3 separate regions of the Homo sapiens genome follow, and regions 1 and 3 are each linked to region 2. The links come from fine-mapping of genetic effects on gene expression. A gene starts in region 2. Each other region holds a variant in brackets. All regions are shown on one strand. Distances are between the middles of the regions.

What was found. PIP is the estimated chance that this variant, and not a neighbour inherited with it, causes the effect.
Region 1: its variant is fine-mapped to the expression of ADPRH in whole blood (INTERVAL, PIP above 0.99).
Region 3: its variant is fine-mapped to the expression of ADPRH in whole blood (INTERVAL, PIP 0.92).

The regions. Positions count from the first base shown.
Region 1 is chr3:119,685,042-119,687,801 of GRCh38, reverse strand. No RefSeq gene overlaps it. Among named protein-coding and RNA genes, the nearest start is that of COX17, 9.0 kb to the right of the region's middle. The variant G/A (reference allele first, on the strand shown) is at 1,278.
Region 2 is chr3:119,578,294-119,581,053 of GRCh38, reverse strand. It overlaps ADPRH (ADP-ribosylarginine hydrolase), which reads right to left and starts at 1,562. Exons shown (of 5, transcript NM_001125.4): 1 at 1,203-1,562; 2 at 418-503. RefSeq lists enhancers at 413-632, 1,573-1,672, 1,457-1,958 and a silencer at 1,253-1,392.
Region 3 is chr3:119,607,403-119,610,162 of GRCh38, reverse strand. It overlaps PLA1A (phospholipase A1 member A), which reads right to left. Exons shown (of 11, transcript NM_015900.4): 3 at 1,216-1,393; 4 at 587-695. Among named protein-coding and RNA genes, the nearest start is that of PLA1A, 11 kb to the right of the region's middle. The variant G/T (reference allele first, on the strand shown) is at 1,674.

The DNA of each region.
Region 1 (2,760 bases), 110 kb before region 2:
TCCCCAGCCATGTGGAACTGTAAGCCCAATTAAACCTCTTTCTTTTGTAAATTGTCCCTTCTTGGGTATGTCTTTATCAGAAGCATGAAAATGGACTAATATAGTAAATTGGTACCAGGGTGAGATACTGCTGAGAAGATACCTGAAAATGTGGAAGCAACTTTGGAACTGGGTAACAGGCAGAGATTGGAACAGTTTGGAGGGCTCAGAAGACAGGAAAATGTGGAAAAGTTGGGAACTTCCTGGATACTTGTTGAATGGCTTTTCCCAAAATGCTGATAGCAATATGGACAATAAGATCCAGATTCAGGTGGTCTCAGATGGAGGTGAGGAACTTGTTGGGAACTGGAGTAAAGGTGATTCTTGTTATATTTTAGCAAAGACACTGGTGGCATTTTGCCCCTGCCTTAGAGATTTGTGGAACTTTGAACTTGAGAGAGATGATTTAGGGTGTCTGGTGGAAGAAACTTCTAAGCAGCAAAGCATTCAAGATGTGACTTGGGTGCTGTTAAAGGCATTCAGTTTTAAAGGAGAAACAGAGCATAAAAGTTTGAAAAATTTGCAGCCTGACAATGCAATAGGAAAGAAAATACCATTTTCTGAAAAGAAATTCAAGCCAACGACAGAAATTTGCCTAAGTAACCAGGAGCCAAATGTTAATTCCCAAGACAATGGAGAAAATGTCTCCAGGGCATGTCAGAGGTCTTCATGGCAGCCACTCTCATCACAGGCTTGGAGGCCTAGGAGGATAAAGTGGTTTCATGGGCTGGGTCCAGGGTCCCCAAGCTGTGTGCAACCTAGGGACTTGGTGCCCTGCATCCCAGCCACTCCAGCCATGGCTGAAAGGGCCAACATAGAGCTCAGGCCATGGCTTCAGATGGCCAACCCCAAGTCTTGGCAGCTTCCATGTGGTGTTGAGCCTGAGGGTGCACAGAAGTCAAGAATTGAGGTTTGGGAACCTTTACCTAGATTTCAGAATATGTATGGAAATGCCTGGAAGCCCAGGCAGAAGTTTGCTGCAGGGGCAGGGGTCTCATGGAGAACCTCTGCTAGGGCAATGCAGAAGGGAAAGGTGGGGTTGGAGCCCCTACACCTACTGGGGCACTGCTTAGGGCATTGCTTAGTGGAGCTGTGAGAGGAGGGCCACTGTCCTCCAGATCCTAGAATTGTAGATCTACCGACAACTTGCACCATGCACCTGGAAAAGCCGCAGACACTCAACACCAGCCCATGAAAGTAGCCGGGAGGGAGGTTGTAATCTGCAAAGCCACAGGGGT[G/A]GAGCTGCCCAAGACCATGGGAACCTACCTCTTGCATCAGCATGACCTGGATATGAGACATGGAGTCAAAGGAGATCATTCTGGAGCTTTAAGATTTGACTGCCCCACTGGATTTCAAACTTGCATGGGCCCTGTAGTCCTTTTGTTTTGGCCAATTTCTCCTATTTGGAATAGGTGTATTTACCCAATGTCTGTATTCCCATTGTTTCTAGGAAATAACTAACTTGCTTTTGATTTTACAGGCTCATAGGCAGAAGGGACTTGCATTGTCTCAGATGAGACTTTGGACCATGGCCTTTTGAGTTAAAGATGAAATGAGTTAAGACTTTGGGGGACTCCTGGGAAGGCATGATTGGTTTTGAAATGTGAGGATATGAGATTTGACAAGGGCCAGGGGCAAAATGATATAATTTGGCTCTGTGTCCCCACCCAAATCTCATCTTGAATTATACTTCCATAATTCCCACATGTTGTGGAGGGACCCAGTGGGAGACAATTGAATCACGGGGATGGTTTCCCCCATACTGTTCTTGTGGTAGAGAATAAGTCTCACAAGATCTGATGGTTTTATCAGGGGTTTCCACTTTTGCATCTTCCTCATTCTCTTTGCCTGCTGCCATCCATGTAAGATGGGTCTTGCTCCTCCTTGCCTTCCACCATGATTGTGAGGCTTCCCCAGCCATGTGGAACTGTAAGGCCAAAGGCCAATTAAACCTCTTTCTTTTGTAAATTGCCCCTTCTTGGGTATGTCTTTATCAGCAGCATGAAAACAGACTAATACAGGGTGTGTGCAATTGACCTTTTTCTTCTTTCTTTCCTTTTTTTTTTTTTTTTTTTAAGGCAGGGTCTCACTTTATCACCCAGGCTGGAGTGCAATGGAGTGACCTCGGCTCACTGCAACCTCCGCCTCCTGGGTTCAAATGACTCTCCCTCAGCTTCCTGAGTAGCTGAGATTATAGATGTGTGCCACCAGGCCTGGCTAATTTTTGTATTTTTAGTAGAGACGGAGTTTCGCCCTGTTGGCCAGGCTGGTCTCGATCTCCTGACCTCAGGTAATCTGCCCACCTCAGCCTCCCAAATTGTGGGGATTACAGGCGTGAGCCACCATACCCAGCCACAACTGACCTTTTTCATCCAGTGATTAGCCTGGCTTTCTCCCACAAGCATGTGGACAAGTTGATTAAGATCAGAGAAGCTGGGCTAGTAAGCTTCAATTGTAATGTTAAATTCATCAGCAAAGCAAAGAGGGTCCTGGGTAACTTTAGGAAATTCCTTGGCTTTAACATGGATTTCAGCCTTATTCCAAGGGCATAGACAATCTAAGGAACCTCAGGATTGTTAGTGGGTCTAACCCTACAGGGACAAGTTTTTATAGGTTGAGGATGGGGATCAGAAGCTGGGAGGGTAGTAGGGGAGGAAGTATCAGGATTGAGTGGGGTTTTCAGAAAGGGAAGGGTAGAGAGGAGAGAGAGGTGGTGGTACC
Region 2 (2,760 bases):
GCTTGGCACATAGTAAGCTTGATTTTTGACATATTTGTATTATTCATATACAACCAGGGAAAATGGGTGTTCTGTTTTAGAACTAGAACATTTTCTCCCCACAACCTTTCCTTCGACAGTAATGTTTAAATATTGTTTCTCTTAGAAATGATCAGCTTCTAGAGAATTCGAATCTCTATTAATAATATACCCACCATGAATGAAATCCCTGGTAAAGCGCTGGCTTCCCTGTTGGTGCATTTCCTAAGAACCCCCCTCTTTCAGCCAATTCCTCAGGGTTCCCTTCTCCCTGTGGCTTTCAGGTCAAAGCCCTCCATCCCATCCAGGCCAATACTTTTATAAGGGTCTGGCAGACTAGCTCATTCTCCCCTCAGGTGAAACTTTTCCCTCCCCTCCACTTATCTAAACCCTATTTACCCAAGGTCTAGTTCAAGTCAGGAGGCTTCCAGAAGTGCTTCTGCAGCTGCACTGCTGTTGGCCATGGAATGCAGGCTGGAGAGCCCCTGGAGAAGGAGTAAACGACGAAGATGGATGCGTTCCACTACCCAGTTACTGGTAATGCTGAGTTTCTGAGCTCACAAAGGATATTTGTAAATGTTATTTACATAGTTTATTATTTACAGTGAAGCCTAGGCACTGAGATTCTGGGCTACTAGACCTGACAGACACCCGGGACAGCGGTTTGCCCATCTGTAAACTGGAGGGGGAAGTGGGGAGGTATAGGCTCTCGGAAGTTCCGTCCTGCGCTGCGATTTTCAGACACTAGGCCAAGACACTCTGCTTCTTGGCCTCGGAGGACTAACTTTAACCCCCCATACCCTCCCTCTCAATGTCCTCATTGTCCTTTCCGTAATTCCTTCTGGCTCCACCCTAATGTGTGCTTCTGTGAATTGCAAGCTGGGATGGGGGAAGAAGACCGGCATCTTTTTTCGGTTGTAAATTCCCTTTAACGTTCGCTTTCAGAACGCTGTAATTACTTAACTCCTCTGAACTTTCACGGGTCACATTCTCGTACCCGAACTATACATTCAGAACTAAGATCTGATCAGCTGCTTCCGGGCCATGCCCGGCTTTGGAAAGAAACGGGGCGGTTGACACGCTCCCACGATTTGCAAGACTGGGAATCCTCATGGTCGGCCACACTCGGAGAGCGCCAGGGGCGGGGGAGGGGAGCGCGGGGCCGAGGGCCGGGATCGCGATACCTGCTGTAGCCTGGACTGGAACGCGCGAGCGACGGGCGTGGCGCGGGCTCCCGGGGCCGGGGAAGAGGCCTTGGCTGCTGCGGGTGGACGAGGGCGCGGGTTGGGGCGGAGCCGGGTCACCGGGTTCCGGGACTGTCCCCAGATAAGCAGGGTGGCGGCGAGGGCCCCCGCACCTGCGCTTGGCCGCGCTGAGTGAGCTAATCTTGGAGCCTCCAAGGCGGCTTCCTGGCACCGCCGCGCCCTTCTGCACCCAAGCGAGAGTGGACGGGACCTCCGTCGCCCGCCCCAAATGCTCTGAAGAGCCCGGAGCCTGGTGCCCGGAATGTGGCGGCACCGGAAAGCCGGCTCTCGCCTGGCTGTGGTCAGTGACTCCCGTGTGGCCCCGGCTGACGCCTTCGCCCGTGCTCACGTCCGACTTTGTAGGACTGTAGTGGACCGGGTGTGCCCAGATGCTTGAAGAGCGTACTGAGTGTGCCGCCCTTGCCAGGGTTCTGGGCCCTCACGCATAAAGTGGGATAATAATATCTGCCTCTTAGAATGGTTGTTAAGGATTCAGTTAGTTAATTTTAACTAGTCATTTATTTGGCAGCAGCGTAGAATTCTTGTATCCTGATCGTAAATAAAAGCAAAGAAAAACGAAGAGTATTTTTGTCTAAATACATTAATCATGTCACTTTTAAAGCAAATCAGAATCACCATATGCAAATATTCTATATATTTCTCCAAAGTTTTAAATTTGCTATGCCTATTTTCTTGCTGTAATGACTAGCCTTGGTCTGAGAGCTTTTTAAAAAATTGATATATAATTTATATATAATGAAATGTCCTTACACCATAATCGAGATATGAAATATTTCCATCACTTTAAAACATTCTCTTGTGGCCTTCCCAGTGAATAACCATCTCCATCTCCAACTCTAGCCTAAGTGACTTTTGAGTGTTTACAAAAATCAAGTTCACCAATAAGGGAGGCAGAGATCACCTCCAACCCCCTACACCCTCTAGCTCTTAGTGAGCTAATCAGCTGCATCTAGAAGCCAAATTGACACTAGGCAGATTAACAAGAGAAAAGTATACAAATTTTATTAATTTTACATGTACATGGGGATGTTAAGAGACTGAATCCTGAAGAAAGTGTCCAAAGCAAGATGCTTTTATACTTTTTAGAAAAAGAGTGATAAATTTAAGAAGAAGTGACAGGACAAAGAAAATCCGGCTAGGGTGGTAAAAAATTTCTAGGGGAGCCCCTAGGAGATATATGGGGGGTGGGGTGTAAAACAGGTGGAAGATAATGGTTACTTTGCAAGAATGTTTACTCCAGTCCAAATGCCACCTCCAGTTCCAAATCTCTGGTGATGAGAGCTATTTTCTCGCTCTGGCGTGGAGAACATACCTCTCCTAGAGGAATCTTTATTGCTGGCTGCATGCAGGAAGAGACAGCTCAGCTCCTGTCAGGGAACCAGGCTCATTTGTCTTTCACACAGTATGCCAATCACTGAGGCGCACAAGTTTTGCAGTAGAGAAAGGGTGTATTCACAAGGCAGCCAAGACAGGAGAC
Region 3 (2,760 bases), 29 kb before region 2:
AAGAATGAAATTATGTTCTCTGCAGCAACATGAATGTAGCTGGAGGTGATTTTCCTAAGCCAATTAATGCAGAAACAAAAAACCAAATACCGCATGTTTTCACTTATAAGTGGGAGCTAAACATTGGGTGCACATGGACACAAAGATGGGAACAATTGACACTGGGGATTTCAAAAGGGGGAGGAAAAGCAAGGGACAAGGGTTGCAAAACTACCTATCAAGTACTGATTGCTACTTGGGCAATGAGATCATTAGAAACCTGAACCTCAGCATCACATGCTACACCCATGTAATAAACCTGCACACGTAAATCCTGAATCTAAAAGTTTTTTTAAATAAGAAACTTAAAAATAAAAAGTAAAAGAAGAAATACATGGCCTCTCACATTGATATTAGAAATCATGCAATAATAACACAATACCATTTTATGCAAAAGAACCACAATAAATAAATTTTAGTGGTAATAGGTGACTTGATCGTGAGAACAAAGGCTCTGTACTCCCCTCTGCTTGCTTTAGAAGAGATATTTTCAGGGCAAGCTTTCTCTATCTCTAAAGCCTGGAGGATGGGCAGGGAGGAATGTTACCTGTGATCTGTCCCAGCTGGCCTCCGAAGAGCTGTCCCACCATGCCCCCAACGTGGGCCCCCAGGCTAACACCAATGATGTGGATTGAGGATTCCGACACACCCAGCACCTAGAAGAGCAGGAACAGTGAGTTCCCCGTGGGCCACAGAGTCTGCTGGCTTCACAGTGGCAGGCTTTCCCCCAAAGCTTCAGAAGCCGAGGCCCTGGGCATGACACACCCACCACACTTACTTTGGAGGGAAAAAGGACAGCACTCTCATTGTTAATCACTTTTTCTCTTCCTGGGCTCCCCACCCTGACAACCCCCTTACTCTCCTTTTGGTGCCCAAAGTATGTGAGTAACGACCATGGCCATTCTCTCTTGAGGGACAACTAAGTGCCAGGCCATCTGCATTCGCTGTCTAAAGTGCCACGACACATTTTACAGAGGAGCAGTGGGAAGCTCAGAATATTCAATAAGCTGCCCGAGGTCAGTGCTGTGAGTGGCAAAGTCAAGATTTGAACCCAAGACCACCGAGCTACCTGGTGACTCTGCTTCCACCCTAAGCCTCCTCAGGCAGTGCTTTTGTCTTTCTGACCCTCTCTCCTCATACGCAGCCCAAACTCACCCTAAGCTCTTCTGCACCTACCAGGAGTTTATTGAGGAAAAGGGAGATCTCGAGGCTCAACTTAATCACATTTTTCACAGCTGAGAAGTAGACTCCTGTAGACCCATAAATCCAGTCCACGGCAATCACATTAGCATTCGTTGCACGCAGAAGGGTTCTAATAAATGTGTCAATCCAGGAAGGCTTTGTTCCTAAAACCCTAGACAGGGGGCCAAAAAAGAATGGAAAAATTACCTGCCAAGTGGATATTCATTGTCATGGAAACCTCTATTAATCTCAAACCCAGAAAAGAAATCAAAACTAGAGAAGGGCTCATATGAGGAGTTTATTACACAGTACTTGGAGCATAGGGAGGACACAATTCCAAAGTTGCCAGCCCTTCCGCCAGCACATATGCAGTCTTTGTGTAAATTATAAAACTTTGCCTTTTGTTCCAGGCAGATGCAGCCTCATGCTAGGGTTCAGAACTTAGCTTGGAT[G/T]TCAGCCTCATCAGCCTTTTGTCAGGCACCTTTGCACAAGGCATAAACCACATAAACTGTATACATTGCATTGCTCCATTTGTGTTATTTGTGGAAAAGAAATATGCCCTAGAGTTATGCCCTAGAGTTAAGATTTGCGATCTTAATTCTCATTCTAAAATATAGGCTCTTTCTTTGTGGACATTTTCTTTTTCTTTCTTTCTTTCTTTCTTTCTTTCTTTCTTTCTTTCTTTCTTTCTTTCTTTCTCTCTTTCTTTCTCTCTCTTTCTTTCTTTCTTTCTTTCTTTTCTTTCCTTTCTTCCTTTCTCTTTCTTTTTCCTTCCTTCTCCCTTTCTTTCTCTCATTCACCCACTGATTTATTCAGCAAGCATTTATTGAGTACCTATGGGCCAGGCAGTATGCTAGGTGCTTTCCAAAAAATAAAGACAAATAAGATATAGTCCCTGTCCTTCTGGAACTTACTGTATAGTGGGACTTTTCCAGGAAAAGGAAAATGATAGAAAAATGTTTAGAAATCTTTCCCAACAGATTGGGATCAGGAAATAAGTTTTTTGATGACTCCCAGTATAGAAGCAAAGAGAGCACACTCGTGTGGACAGAGGAGCGCGGACTGGGTGTGTGCCAGGGAATGGGGTTGTGGGATTTAAGAGCAGACAGAGTGCCTTGCCTGATGAGCTCTCCACCTCTATTAGCTACCCCTGGGTTGGAGGTACACACTCAGCCTTGGAAAGTGGTGGAATATGAGATGTGCTAGAGGAGAGGGTTTGGCACAAGAGCAAGGAGAGATGCCTAAGGAAACATGTAGCTGAGTCTCTGGAGTCCAGGGACCTGAGAGGCGGAGACAGGCCAGAGATCAGGAAATGGTGGTCCTTTGTGCACAGCCTTTGTGTCTACCTTTTCATTGGGTGCCCCAACTCTACTTGCTCCATAGTGCTATTACTTTACCATATTCTCTCCCTCTTTCCTCCCAGAAACCTTTCTCTGTTTCTAGCCCTATAGATGGGCTTTGGAGAAAAGCTGTTCAAAGAAAGGATGGTGATTGGAATTGAGACTCAGTGACTATATATTACAACAAATTGTGGACTGG